2 separate regions of the Homo sapiens genome follow, and region 2 is linked to region 1. Evidence: fine-mapped expression QTL. A gene starts in region 1. The other region holds a variant in brackets. All regions are shown on one strand. Distances are between the middles of the regions. Region 1 holds the start of LINC02032 (long intergenic non-protein coding RNA 2032). Region 2 has its middle 40 kb from the start of LINC02032.

What was found.
Region 2: its variant is fine-mapped to the expression of LINC02032 in cerebellar hemisphere (GTEx, PIP 0.93).

Annotation. Positions count from the first base shown.
Region 1 is chr3:148,074,572-148,082,930 of GRCh38, forward strand. It overlaps LINC02032 (long intergenic non-protein coding RNA 2032), which reads left to right and starts at 3,588. Exons shown (of 2, transcript NR_134937.1): 1 at 3,588-3,686.
Region 2 is chr3:148,114,463-148,122,821 of GRCh38, forward strand. No RefSeq gene overlaps it. Among named protein-coding and RNA genes, the nearest start is that of LINC02032, 40 kb to the left of the region's middle. The variant C/T (reference allele first, on the strand shown) is at 4,979.

The DNA.
Region 1 (8,359 bases):
TGTACACATAAGTGTGTTATATGTGGGGTTGTGCCCACAGGGATATAGTAAAATGAACCATACTACTCTGTTTTCATCATATTTCATAAATATCCAAATTATAGAGACATAATAAAAGGTAAACAAAGATTCTCCCATTGCTCAACATTTATAATAGTTCATCTATGTTTCAACATAGTGGCCCTCGCTACCATGAATATTTTCTATAATATAGTATTTGAGATGCATTGATGTACTCAGATTCTAGAAGTCCCAAGAAAGCTGCATCAATTTACATAGTGCAGGCAGATGTGATGTGAGCACCACATTATATGCATGTAATTTTGTATATTTCCAATCCCTCTTTATGTTAGAAAAAGCATCCTAGTTTAATGTTATTGAATTATTACTTAGGCTCCAGATTCACTTTAGAAATATTTTTATAGAGAGAAAATATTTTTTCACTCAAATTAACACATATAAAATAGAAAGAATAAGGCACATAAAGGCCATGGGCTGCATTTTGCAGGGGATAGGTTCTGGTTGAATGAGATCTGGGATGTGTGCCAAATTAATAGAAAAAATCCTGTTCTTCCTCTCCAATAGCCACAATGTTCATTATTAAAAAAAAAGCATACGAACCACAGGATTTGATTTTAATAACACCAATGTCTTCATTAATCTGTACGTTCCATTTAGCCTCATTATTGAGCAAATGTTGAATTAATGCAGTATACATTATTGTTGGATTTTCCTTGCAAAACCTCTTTTCTCTCTTTTATCATTCATTCAGAGACCATCATGCGTATGTCATGTTTTTACACAGGCCTGAAGCCCTCAGAAATTGAACTCAAAATTCTTCCATCTAGTCTAGGAGAAGACTTTAGGTTTGAGAAATCTACAAAGGGGTGTGAGAAACAGAACTGCAGATTCCCATTCAAAACCATAACTATTTTTCTGTCTTTTTAATGCTGTCATGTCAAGACACCTGCAACTGAGATGATATTTCCTCGATGGTCTCTGGGCCTCCTTCTAAATCAAGAGTGGTGATAGCCAACACTGCTTTGTATCTGCGAAACAAATAGTGGCCTTTGTCCAGCACAAGTCCCTAAACAAACTTAATCTCTCTAACACTGTGACAGATGACATTTAGATGTCCTTGTTACCCTTAAAATGAGTTTTATTGACAATCAGAGAACAAAAAGAAGGCCCAGATAAAGCCCAATGTTTTATAGGCTTGCTAACAACATCTTAGTCCAGAGGGTGAGGAGAAAGCCTGAAGTTGCCCCCATTTTCCCCTGCTTTGCTATATCACCATGACAACAGATATAGAAATCACTTAGTGACTCCTAGAAAGAAAACACAGTGACACAGTACCCCTTGTATGGCGAATCAAACTAAAGCCTTCATTCAAATGGCTATTCAGCTTGGGCATTCATGTAGAGGATAGGGTGGATTTTACACAGGTAACTACAAGAGAAAGGCCAGCAAGCCCTCCAGCCACAGCATATGGCAAAGTCTCTGTCTAATTAATGCATCCTCAATAGAATTTATCCATTTTAAATTTGTTTTCTTTTACTTGAAACATCATTAATGTAAAGGGCAACATTAATCAACATCATGGAACTTAAAAGGGCATTAAAGAGTGATCTTTTTCCCTATGCAACAAGAATCTTTTCAAGTAGTTGTGTTAACTGCAGCAGATTCAAGGCACATTCTGAGTTTGTAATCAGAAGGCAAATCTAGAGAGGCCTCTACTGGCGAATCTGTCTCTGTGCAGTTGTCCTTGCGGAACTGCCCTGGAAAAACAAGCAGGAGAATGACTTTCGGCTTTTTTTTATTGGAAAGTTGCACACCAGATGGATGACCAATGAATATACTGTATAAAACATTGAATAATGGCATTCACACTTTTGAAGCTGTCATATCTAACTGCTTATTCTCAGGTAATAAAAGGACCCTCAAGCTCTGATGTATGAGCTGCTTGGACTCAAAGAGATGTTTTAAGATTATTCAACAAAGAAATAACAGGTAATCTTTTTTTTCTTTGTACATAACGCTCCCATTCAAGTTTAAGATTTAAAACTATTTTGATATGAAATTGTATTTCTTGACATTGTTTGTTGGGGAGGCACACTGTTCACACACATATCCATATATCTCCCACAACCAACTAAAAACTGAAATAAAATCTTTAGATGAAACTAAAGTGCCCATGAAATATTTTGATTAATCAAAAAGCGAAAGTTTACTGCTAAGATTTCCTAGGAAATGTGAACAAAATATAGTCCCCTCAAGTGATATTTAACCTGAAAATATCATTGCACTATATTTTCATGAAATTAGGCTGAAAATAGCTTCACTGCTTTGTGAAGTCACTTTTGGGGGAAAAAAAGTAAAGATTTAATTTTTCCACGAGAAGTTGAAAGTTATTTAATATTTCCTAGGATGAAGATACTTATGATGTCTCTATATAAGGAAGCTCAGGGACTTTTCTCTTTGAAAAAAGAAAACCTGACTCCATAAATGTCTTTGTTCAAGTGTGGAATATTATGGTAACACTACATGCAATCTTGAAACTTTTCAAAAGGCAAAACCCTAATCCTCTTGTTTTACAACATTTTTATATCCAATATTTTTGAAATCTGATCATACCGAAATACTATTCAAATTACATTTATTCTCTTATATCTTTCAAAAATTCCATGAGTTATTTTTTGCTGTAATATCTGATATCTCAGGGTCCCTTGCCAGCATATTGTTAGTAGGGTCATTTCACATTTCAAATGTGTATTTCAAATGTTTAGTTGAGATTTTGAGATAAATTTGACCAAGTAACTTTTCACAGGGTGGTTTGGTTAGCATGGCTCAGTAAATTACCTTTGGATCATACAGGTAATTCTTGATCTTAAAATTAAATTCTGTTAGATGGCTTGAGATCACTACCTTTTAGTCCCAGTAGTGACACCTACTGGTAAAAAGAGAACAAAAAATAGTTTTAGCTTTCTTTCTGCTGTTTTAGAGAATCTTAACCAGGGACTCTGTTGTTAATAAATGTACCTTATTTACGATTTGTTTTCAGGTCTTTAAAATACAACTCTACATTACCAAAAACTAATTAGTGAGGGGGAAAACCCAAACAGAATAATGCAGGTATTTAATAAGGAAAAAGAAAAAAAACTTACTAGCAGAGGAGTATAGTAAAACTTAACACCAAATAGTGTAGAGAATATGTAATTACAATCTTTTGAGTTTTTATATATTGTAGAAAATGAGAAGCCAAGCTTTAGCAATAGTTTTTCTGAAAATGCCACATTTCCCAGTTAGAACTGGAAGATGAAAAGGTCAAAATGCTGTAAAAAAATTACTTAACATTTTTTTGTTTCCACAAATGTTTATTAAATGTTCTATATTTAAGAAAGAGCAAAGTCAATCCAGGAAAAAAAGAAGAATATATGCTTGATAGCAACCCAATTGTCAATAATCTTTGAGGATTTATGCTAATTTAACCAGAAATGCTCTTTCAGAACACGGATTTATCACATGTCATAGAACATTGAAGTCACATTAGAATGTGGTTAATTTCTCCACTGAGCTAGAAGCACATGGTTTGCAGAACATTGGCTACAGTAAGAACATACTCTGCATCAGAGAGGGTTCAACATTAACAACGTCTGTAAAAACAGAATCACAGCTGTCAAGAAGAGGTATGATCTTTATTTCTCCTAGAAGCTTCAGTGAAGCTCCTCTTTAAATTACATTTGCTCTTAATTTATAATATTATGACACTACACATTCCAGTTTTTCATAAAGCACATGAAGTCTTATTTAATAAGAAACTGTTTTAGATAATTATCTGAAGACCCATATAAAACTTGTATAGTCTTTTTTTGACTGCTAAGTAATTCACTTGTTAAACTATAAAACACAGCATCAATAATTTTAGAATTTTACAGTCATATGAGATAAAAATGGCAGACTGGAAAGAAATACATTTCAACCCAGGTTTAATTGGAATGAGCCTTTTTATCAAAATGCTCCTAATATTTCTTTTAGGAAACTCTAGGTCTTTGTTAATATTTCAGCTTACAAAGAAAATACAGCTATCAGTATCCCAAAATATTGTTTTGCCTTGGGGATTGTGGTCAGGTATATAGTAAGGCAGAGAATCATTTAATCCATGATACACACTTGTGACTACTTTTGTGATATCACTGAAAGGAAATGTGTGAAAATGTCACAAATTACTCAGCAGACAGTTAGCTATATTGGTGTCTTTGAAACCATGTTTGGCTCTGCTGTGTGCTTTTGTTTGTACAACTTGAGCACATGCTTCAAAATGTCATCCAAATTACAAGCATGCAAGGAATGAAGTATTACTTCTCTATCAATTTCAGAAGCATACTACTTTTATTTCATTAAATAGCTTATCAGCCAATCACACTTGGTAAAATCATGAAATTCCTTTCTTACATTTTTTGCAGGAGATATTCTATGTTGTTATTTATGATCTAAAATAAATCTTCAAATTTGTTTATGATGGTAAATATGGGAAAACAAAGGACTTTTAAAAATCATGTAAATTACAACATAAAAATCTGAAAGCACAACATTTATACAAAATCATTTGGCCAACTTGCTGGCAATTAAGTTGGGATACAATGTGCTCAGGGTGAAAACAAGATCAGAAATTAAAACAAAGTAGCCAGAAAAAATTGGAAAAGTTTTGGTTTTGGTTTTGGTTTTGGTTTTCCTGAGTACCTGGACCTGCAATTCAGCTGATCATTAAACACAACCAGAAAGAAAGGCTCTATTTTGCCTTTAGAGAGTTCATCCAGAGACTGCACAAGGGATTTGTACAGAATAAAGCCTCACAAAACCCAAGGGCTGTCAGAGGGAAATGGTATCCAGGAGGACAGGGCAGGCCAAGCATCCTCTCAACAGCAAAGCCACACAAGAGAGCCAGAGGCAGCACTGCGACTGCCAACACAACTGCCTATTACGTCTGCCAAGGAGCCAGAAGCCGCTTGTGGGAAAATATCACTTACCCTTAGCATCTGGGTCCTGTGATTGTTATCCAAAGAGACAGAGTGGTAAGATATAGTGGGATAAACAGCATCCCATTAAACACACACGTACACACACGTACACACACACACACACACACACACACACACATACACGTTATCTTTCTGGGTAAAGAGAGAGATAAGCCATACATGGATTTGGATTAGACTTTCTGTAGTTGGAATTCTTTTAAATCAGATTTATTCTATATATTCATATTTAGTTACATATTCAGTTATATACTCATATTTCATAATGAGATTGGCTTTAGTAATTACTTCTCACTAATAGTTTTGGTCGGTAAAAAACAAGATTTTAGTTGTATTTGTGGCTATTTGATGTGCATAGTCCACTATGAAATTTTTATTTTCTTGGAGTAATTGGTTATAGCTGGCTGATAGGATTATTCAAAAATTAAATATTGATTATGAATAAACTAAAACAAGCTATGCTTTGATGTTAAACTTTTTTTCTTTTTCTTTTCTGGTGTTGTGTCACTATTTTTAAGAGGCCAACTTCCAAAATATATACTCATAAAATAACTGATAAATTCTTATTAAACATGTGCTATACTATAAGCATGTGATATATATATATCATTATATAATAGATATAACTATGACATATATAACGTTACTTATGTATAGTATATTATATATATTTCAGTTTGATAAAGTCCCTTCTAAAATATACACTTTCAATTTACATCTGAATGAATCTTCTTGAAGTTTCCAAATGTGGCAATCTGATTGTATATATTCACTCTGCACCAAAAAATGAGGATGAAGGGGAGGGAAAATCTAGAGAATTACAGATTGGAGACACCTTGTGGTTAATGTAAAGGTTTTAATTCATTCTTATGTAGAGAATTTGAAGATCATTATTACTGCAGAAAGTAATAGCCTTCTGTTTTTGAGTCTTCAGTAAAAGGGTAAGAAAAGTAGTTTTCATTTTAAATATTCTGCTCTGATACCAAGAACAGAAAGTAATGCAGTTTTAAGTGTCAACAGCAATATAATGTACCCAAAGAGAAATTGTTTTATATTTTATTTTATAATGTCAATTCTATTGTACAGTTTAATGGAGAGCATTTGGAATAACAATCCCATTTATGTACACAGTGGATTTATTATTAAAACTCATGCTTTGCAGGAATAAAATTAAAATTTCAGTGGCATTTAGTGAGTAAAAAAATGTGTATTTCAAGGTCATAAAATCTATTATATTGGTGCAAAAGTAATTGCACTTTTTGCCATTACTTTTAATTGCCAAAATCGCAATTACTTTTGCACCAACCTAATAGTTGCTTATTTGTGCATGTTATGTGAGATAAGGCATATGGAGCAGTATATGCCATAATATGCATAATAACATGCACTTGATTACTTATAAACATGTTTCGCATGTGCATAAAATATATTACACGGACGTTTAATTTTTTAATTTATATAAATAGCAAAGTAACTTAGGTATGTTTATCATCGAATGCCAACATGAATACAATGTTCAAAAGAGATAAAAATTTTGTGGAAGTGCAAAACCACATGGTAAACAATTGATATGTTTTTGTTTATTTTTCTTGTTTGTCATTACCACACACACAAAGAAATTTGATTCTAATTGATAACCTTTTGACGAATAGATTATTTTCTGATACCAAATAATTCTCAAATTGATTCAAATTTAGTTCCATTTTTACAGCATTTTTATGTAAACTAGATAATAATGATGAAAAGTGTTTCTTTTATATTGCTTCTCTATGTAATGGTGGAAGAGCCTGTGAATTCAATTCAATGAGGCTCAATTATGGGAATGAGGAAGAAGATAAGGGAATAAATAGATTCTAAACATTTTATTTCATTTAAAAATTTAAAATGCTCAATTGAAATGTGAAATATTTCTCCAATATTTATAAATACATAAATAACTTATGAATATGTGCAAAAAATCAATAAGAATTTATGAAAAGTTTTTGGGCTATGTGTTGTTTCATTTCCCACAAGGGAAACTAACAGCCCCAGAAAGATGTGAATAAAATCAGAACTACTTTCTCTAGGCCATTTAAATGATTACACTCTAAAACTAGAACCTGAAATGCAAATGTTTAATTTTATGACCAAACTACTTTTACATATTTGTTGCATTTGTTATATCTTTTCCTTGAAGCTCTTGTTTATTTCCTTATCTAGTTGCCTTTTTCCCATTTCATTTCTAATCCCGAAGGTTTGCAGTTTCAATTTTCATTATTTTATTATATTTATACCATGCCTTTAATCTTTAATAGTTTTTTTTTAAGTTTAGTTGGTTTATTAACCCACAAGTTTAATTAGGTATTCTGTAACACCACAAAATGTAGGCCTAGGATATACTATTATATACAAAAGCATTTCATGTAAGTCAGTGTATTAAGACTGTTAAATTTCAACTTATTATAATTACACATGGCAGAACCATTTAACCCTTTATGATCTTTACATATTAAATTGTGAAAAAAGAAACCGTACTCATTTATTAAAGCCAACAAGGTTTACAGCCTTAACTAAATGTTACATAGTCATGAGTCCCAGAGATTTATTTTTTCCATAAGATAGCAACTGAAGTTACAGAGGACAAGTTATCCTCTCATTCTCTGTGTTAATCCTGTGTTCTTTACAACTGTCCAAATTGTATAAGAATTTGCTTATAATGATGTTATATGATGTCCTTGTGATACCTGCATTTCTGGAGAACTTAATATTGATTTACTGTGTCTTTTGCCCATCTTTGAGCAGCCTAGATAGCAATTACAGCTGTTGGTGGTATCTATTTTGTCTTTTCATAATTGTCATTTCATGTTCTACTTAAGATTAAAATATGAAAATTGTACCACGTGCACATCAACAGTGCATTAACCAAGTTATCAGCGATATCTGTGAAACACTATGATTTAACCATGGTTCTTTACATTGCTCCTTCATTTTATTTACGAAAATTGCATGCTACAATATAAACTTGAACAAGAAATACATTCAAAGGTGAGCCTCCCTGACATCAAGTCCTCATCAGGATCATTACTATCTTCCTAAGAAATCCATGGGACTTTCCCAGTACCTGCTTGCCTCTGCCAAATGCTTTCTCCCCTTCAGACTGGGATTTCAGATAAGCAGGGGCTGCTTTGTTTTTCTTCAGCTCTTACTTTAAAAGAGCCTTCACAGTTTTTGAGCTTTCTCTACTATTCTAATTTCAATCCACATTTCACATAGAATATGGAATTTTATACAAGGAAAATCGTGTTTAAAAGTTATACAGCAGATTTGAAATTTCTTATTTATTA
Region 2 (8,359 bases), 40 kb after region 1:
AAGTACATAAGGTAAAGTCATCACTTGAGAGGGCTAGAAAAAAAAAATGGTGTCACAAAGGTTCAGTTAAGCCAAGAAAGTGAAGAGAATATTTCTATAAGGCATTGAAGATAATAAAAAATTTGCTAAATGTGATACAATATTTACAGAGGGTATCATGGAAGGATTTATGACTTGGGGAGAAGGAGGGATACTTTACTTTGAGGGTAAATACAGCATCTGGGAGAAAACGGTGTTGTAGATGATTAGGAACTAGAGGACTGACACTTTTGAGGAACTAGTAAAAATAGGGAAAAGATATATGAAGCTTTTGATGTCCCATAGGATATAGATCACTGGGACTGGGAATCAGATAGATCAAAGACCAGTATATGTAGTCACTCTGCCGGATAATCGTGGTCATAATAGAATAAATCACAACATTTTTTGAACAAATTATATTTGGGGTCCTTTATATGCATCATCTCCTTTAATCCTCTTGATTACCTCCTGAAGTAGCAGTATATACTTATGTTGAAGAAAGCAGATTGAAACGTTGATTAGCTGGCCCAATATGATTTTGGACACCTTTATTTATATTTACCCTATTAGAGCTCTTAGCGGTATATGAAGTCATGCTTGAATATGATACTACTACTACTTTTGATTAGGTTCAGCCACACTTAAAAATTGTGGTGAAGTATGTTTGTGTGGCTAGGTGACTGTTGGGTAAAAGTAAGGTTTCTAAAGATGCTGGTTATTGAGTCTTTATCAGGCTTTGTCTTACCCTTCTGGCTGCCCCCATCCCTTGCAAGATCAGATGCCAGTGAAAATAATAGCCATGAACTCATAGGATTGCAAATAGCCTCCGCAAAAAGGCCATGGGTCAAGGAAAATGTATATTTCTTCAGTTTCATTGCCATTAATTCTTTGAAGAATGGTTGTGTAGCTTTAAAATTTTTTAGCAGAGAAACTTTTTCTGCAAGATTGTATTTTAGAAAGTCAATATACAACCAGAGCTCATCTGATTGAGGAAGGGCTGAGGGGTCAGATCCAGCTCTTTTTTCTTTTTTTCTTCTTTTTCTCTTGTCCTGAAACAGCTTCACAGAATCCTTGGTTTTTCAAGAAAAGAGGAGAAAACTCTTCTATAGATTGAAAAATTATATGGGCAAGTGCTTTTTGTTTACTTCAAAAAAATATGTGGGTGCCACAAATAGCTTTTAATGTATCTTTTAAATTAGAGATGCTGAAGAATCAATATATGTGAAAACTAGGCAAAAGCCACAATAAACTATCAGAATAGCTAAGATAAAATATGATGATACCAAATGTTATGAGGATGTGACACACTGGAAATTTCATACATTAATGGTTAGAATGTAAATTAATACAATCTTAAAATTTAAGCACATACCTAACCTATAACTCAGCCATTTCACTTGTAGGTATATAATCAGCAGAAACAAGTGCCTATGCACATATGCACACAAAAAAACACAGGCAGGTATATTTATAACAGCAGTGTTTATAATAACACTAAATTAGAAATGATCAACATATCCATTAATTTTAGAAAGGATAGAAGAGAAAGTGTCACTGCCACCATAGACAATGTTAGCTGCTGAGGATCTCTGCAATCTTTATTAATACTGACGAAGCTTCACAGGGACTACACAGCTGGCACTCTCAGTGGTATCAGAACTGCTGTACCTTATCCAGCAAGTATGCTCATCCTCCACCCAGAGACAAGGATATTTCCACAAAAAAACTAGTCATTAAAGTCTACAAGAGAAGAGTACTCTACCAAATGTGCAGACATCAACATAAGGCAACAAGAAACATGAAAAACCAAGGAGATAATTACCATCAGAAGAACACCATAATCTTCCAATAGCTGACCCCACAGAAATGGAGGTAAGTGAACCAACTAAGAATTCCAAATAATTGTTCAAAGGAGCTCAATGAACTTCAAGAAAATACAAATAAACAATTTAATAAAATTAAAAAAATAAAAACCCAACCTGAAAAATTAACAAATAAATTGAAATTGTTTTATAAACATCAAACAGAAATTCTGGAACAGAAAAATAAAATAAATGGAATTTAAAAATGCAATAGAGAGCATCAACAGAAGAATTAATAAATCAGAGGAAAGAATTTCTGGACTTGAGGGCAAGTTATTTGAAAATATACAGTGAGAGGAGAAAAAATAATACAAAAGAATAAAGAAAACTTACAGGATTTATGGGACAGCATCAACAGAGCAAATATTCTAGTAATAAGAGATGAAGAAGAAGAGAGACAAAAGGGTAGGAAGCTTACTTAAAAGAATAATAGCAGAAAACTTTCTAATCTAGGGAAATATTTAGGTACAGGAAGGTCAAATAAGATTTAATCCAAACAAGATGATACCAAGACATATTATAACCAAAGTTTCAAATATCAAGGATAAAGCAAAGATCTTGGAATTAGCAAGAGAAAAAAAGCAAATCATATTTAGGGAATTCCAAGGCTCGCAACAGAATTCTCAGCAGAAACTTTATACACCAGAAGAGAGTGGGATCATGTGTTCGAAGGGCTAAAGGAAAAAAACAAAACAAAAACAAAACCACTTGGATACCAGGAATACTTGGCAAAGCTGTTCTTCAAAACTGAAGGAGTAATAAAGACTTTCCCCCACACAAAAGAATGCTGTGGGACCACCAGACCTATCTTACAAGAAATGCTAAAGAGAGTTCTTCAAGCTGAGAGAAAATGATGACAGTTAGTAACATGAACACATATGAAAGTATAAAAGTCACTGGCAAAAGTAAGTACACAATCAAATTCAGAATACTCTAAAATTGTAATAATAGTATGTAAATCACTATATCTTTTGTATGAAGGTTAAAAGACAAAACTCTTAAAATAATATAGCCATATTCACTTGTTAATGGTATACAATATAAAAAAGTATATTGTGACATCAAAAACATGAAATTGTGATGTATGTAGAGTAAAAGTCTATAGTGTTTTTTGTGCAAAGGTAAATTTTTTATCAACTTAAAATAGCCTGTTACAAATATAAGATATTTTTATGTAAGCCTCATGGTAACCACAAGGCAAAAACTTATAGTAGATATGTAAAAGATAAAAAATGAGGAATTAATGCATACCACTAGAGAAAATCATCTAATCAAAAAGGAAGACAAGAGAGGAGGAAAGAAACTAAATCCACAAAACAACTGGAAAACAATGAACAAAGTGGCAGTAGTAAGTCTTTATCTATCAATAAGTACCTTGAATGTAAATGTATTAAATCCTTCTATCAAAAGTCACAGAATGGCTGAAGGCACCCAATATATGCTGCCTATGAGAAACTCACTTTGTCTTTAAAAACACATATGAAAATGATAAGAGGAAAGAAGATATTCTATGCAAATGGAATCAAAAGAGAGAAGGGGTAGCTATACATATTCCAGACAAAATATAATTTATATAGAGAAATAAATCTTACAGAGAGAAAATGAAAATAAGAAATAGAGAAAACTCTAAAAATGCTACCAAGTCAAAAACTGTAAGATGAGACAAAGAAGGTTATATAATGATGTGGAAACAATTTGTCAAGAAGATACAACAATTATAAACACATATGTACCTAACATCAGAATACCTAAATATATAAAGCACATATCAATACATCTGAAGAGAGATAGAATGAAATACAATAATAATAGGGGACCTCAATACCCCACTTTCAACAGCGGACAGATTGTTTAGAAAGAAAATCAATAAAATTGATAAGGAACCATTGTTCTTTAACTGCAATGGGAATAAATGGACCTCTCAAACATGTATAAAACATGATACCAAACAGCAAAAAACTACACATTCTTCTCAAGCACACATGTAACATTCTCCAGGATAGACAACGCAGGCCACAAAACAAGTCCTCACAAATTTAAGTACGTTGAAATCATGTCAAGTATCTTTCCCAACCACACTAAATAGAATGAAACAAGAAATCAATAATAGAAGGGACCTCAAAAAAATTATAAAAATGAGAAAATTAAACAACATGCTTCTAAATAATCAATAGGCAAAAGATGAAATTAAAAGAGAAAGCTTAAAACTGTCTTTTGAGAAAAACAAAAATAGAAACATAACATACCAAAACAAGATACAGGAAAAGCAGTTCTAAGAAGGAAGTTTACAGCAATACATGCCTATCTCACAAAAAGAAGAAAGCTGAATTCTACTAAACAATAAAAAAGAATTCTTCTCAAACTCTTGCAAAAAAATTGAAGAGATGGGAAAACTTCTAAACTTATTATATGAAGCCACTATTACCCTGATACCAAAGCCAGACAAAGACACTACAAGAAAAGATAATTACAAGCCAATACCCCTGATAAATATAAACTAAAAAAATCTTCAACATAATATTAGCAAACTGAATTCAACAGCACATTGAAAGGATCATTCATCATGATTAAGAAGGATCTATCCCTTGGATGCAAGGATGATTCAATATATATAAATCAACAATTGCAATACACCACAAGAGCAGAATGAAGAATAAAAGTCATATGATCATTTCAGTAGATGCAGACACTACATTCAACAAAATTCAACATTATTTAACAATAAAATCTCTTAACAAAACAAAGGTCATGTATGATGAGCCTATAGCTAACATCAAACTTAATGATGAAAAGTGGAAAGCTTTTTTCCCGTAAGATAAGAAACAAAACAAGGATGCTCACTTTTGCCACTTCTTTTCAACATAGTACTAGAAGTCCAAATACAAGTTTCCAAGTTGTCAGGCTCAAGAAGACCTCATCAAAATGGATTTGAAAAGCTCCTCACCAAGGCAAATTATTAAATTTTAGAACACCAAAAACAGAACGAAGAGTTAAAATTTTTTGAACAAGAACACTTAGGCAAAAAAAAAATTATTTTAGTAATTAGGCAAATTTTAATTTGTAATTAATTTCAAATTTTAATTTGTAAGTAATTA[C/T]TAAATTTTAATTTAGAAATTAGGCAAAATAAAATAAAAGGCATCCAAATAGGAAAGGAAAAAGTAACATTACTGCTGTTTGCTCACAACACGATCTTATATAGAGAAAACTCTAAAACTCTGCCAAAAAAACTCTTGGATATAACAAATAAATTCAGTAAAATTGCAGAAATCAAAATCAACATAGAAAAATCCATAGCATTTCTATACACTAACAAAAAAAATCCAAAAAAGAAACTGAGAAAACAATCCCATGTTTTTTTAAAAATTATTGTTTTTTAAAAATTTTGTGTGTACATGTTATATATATATATATATATTTATGGGGTACATGAGATGTTTTGATACAGACATGCAATGTGAAATAAGCACACCATGGAGAATGGGTATTCATCCCCTCAAGCATTTATGTTTTGAGTTACAAATAATCTGACTATATTCTTAAAGTTATTTTAAAATATACAATTATTATTGACTATAGTCACCCTACTGTGCTATCAAATAGTACATCTTATTCATTCTTCATATTTTTTAGCAACACAAAAAATAAAATAGGAGGAAATCAAGGAGTTAAAATACCTGTGCATAGAAAACCATAACACAATGATGAAAAAATTGAAGAAAACACAAATAAATGGGAAGATATTCTGTAACATAAATTGGAATAATTAATATTATTATAATGTCCACACCATCCAAAACAATCTACAGATTCAATGCAATCTCATCAAAATACATATGTCATTTTTTACCAAAATAGAATAAGCAATCCTAAAATTCATATGGAGCTACAAAAAACCCAAATAATGAAAGCAATCTTGAGCAAAAAGAACAAAGCCAGAGCCATCACATTACCTAATTTTAAAATCTAATGTAGGCCTACAGTAATCAAAACAGTATGATTCTGGCATAGAAACAGACACATAGACCAATAGAACAGAACAGAGAGCCCAAAAATAAATCCATAAATTTACAGTCAATTGATTTTCAACAAAGATGTCTTCATAAAATATTAAAAGAGCCAAACAAAAGCTCTTATTAAATAAAACTATGATAGCGGAAAAAAAAACTTCCTATAGAAAGTTTAGAAGATAAATTTGAGAAAACCTTCTACAAATAAAAAAAACTAAGCAGAAAATAGAAGAATATTACAGGATCAGTTGATAAAGTATAAACATCTGAATAGTAAGCAACCAGGTAAGACAAAAAGAAAAAATAAAAAGAGAAAAATATTTAAGAAATAATACAAGAAAACTTCCCTTATCTAAACACAAGTTTCCAACCTGACAGCCTCTGAAAAGACATCATCGAAATGGATTTGAAAAGCTCCCCAGCAAGGCAAATTATTAAACTTTAGAACACCAAAAACAGAATAAAGAGTTAAAATTTTTTGAATAGGAACAATCAGATCTCATGCAAAGAGAAATTAGAATGGCATCAAACTTTCGAAAAGCATAATTTAAAGCCCTCCAAATTCTAAGGAATATGGAAATGTATATACTCAAACTTTTAAACAAGTGATGATGATGATGATGATGATGACGATGATGAAAACACTTTCAGATAGTCAACATAGTAGCTTCTCAACTTCCTTTTTTTTTGATAATGTCCTGGAGAGAATCAACCAAGAAGTGAGAAGACAAAGGAGATAGAAAACGGATCTCCAACTCAAGAAAAAATCAGAAGAAAAGCTTGGAAAACCATATGGGGTATGCCATTGAACAGCCATTTAATACAGAGGGCAACCACTTCACATTGGATCAGGGGGACTTACATGTCCAGGAAATCTGTATTCAAAGAAAATATGATAGTGACTCATTAGAAGTATGATTAAATGTATAGAGAGGAGATTTCATATCAGAGGAGGGTTTGTGAATAAATTAGTTATAATTTCATAGAAAATTAAGCAAATGGAAAGAAAAACAATTATATCCAGGAAAGACCAAAAATTGTGTAAGAAATGAAGGATAGTGTTGTGATGTTTACATAGTCAATGTAATATTTAACCACAAAGTATTGGTTTAATATAAAATTAGATTACATTTATATATTGAGAAGATGAAAAAAAGATTTGTATATATGTGTGAATACATGTGTTGTGGGGAGCAAAATATGGTCGTGTTGGCAAGGATGTTGGTGCATGTAGGTGGGAGGTAGCAACATTTTTAAGGCAACTTTTGTAATAGGAAGACAAGAGTTAATGTATGAAAACAAAAATTCAAAAAATGAGGGTATAAGTATGCTATTTAGAAATATGAGTAAAAGTCCCAAGAGAAACAGCTAAAATGTTGAAACCAACTGCCTTTTGAAAAGCATCACCTCAAATGAGGTAGGGAAGTGGGTGAAACAAGGGAGTACTGTTTTTCTTGATAATCCTTGAAGATCTATTTGATTTTTTCCATTGTGTGCATACATTATTTAATTACACAATTTTTTAAAAAGTAAAATGAAAGAAATAAAACTCTATGACAAAGAAAAAAATTAGCTCAAGTTTGCTTGAATGAATGGGCAGCAAGACCCATTCAAGGGAGTATCTAGTCCATGTGTCTCTGAGGCTTCTACAGTGACTCTAACCTCAAACTGCCTCTGAATCCTGAAAGCACCTTATTATTCGACCTGCTAAGGTCAAAGTGACCTCTCATTCTACCAGTTGTGCTATACTAGGAAGTGGAAGAATCTGGCTCATTCTTTTTCCATAGTAGGAGTCAGAACACTTTCTCTACTGACTACAAAACGGATTAATTAAGGTCTAATAGAATGAGGCAGGGGTTGGGATTTGGATGCTGAGCAGGGAGAAGATAGTCAAACTTCCACTACAGTTATGGTGAATAATTATGTAAAAGAGTAATTGGGCTACCATGATTATTTTTATTTAAAAATTTACAAGATTTATTTCTGAAGATCTTTCGTAGTGCATTGGGTAAATAGTTACTTTGCTAATGAAGTGCCAGAGGCAGTACAATGCAGTGGGTAATAAGTTGGTCCTCTGCTACAAAGGAGCATGAGATAGAATTCTGGCTGGATCCTTCACTGCTGTGTAAGTGCATGTAAATTTCTTAAATGTCATGGTGCTTCAGTCTCTCCATCTTCAAAGCAGAGAGAACAAAATATCTACCTCATAAAGATGTTACAATGACAAAATGTTGGGAATATGTATTTTTTCAAAAAAGATAAATGCAGAAACAGAAAAATAATTTGAAAATGCAAAAACAAAATAAAGCATTAAAACTTTGAAAAGTATCTATACTGAAAACAGAAAAATAAATTGCATATAATCCCAGAAGCAAAAACTCATTAAAAGTATCATTTGAGAATGCATTTGCAAACCTGGATTAAATTGATGAATTTAAAAAAAATTACCAAAATTATGTTAAGAAAAGA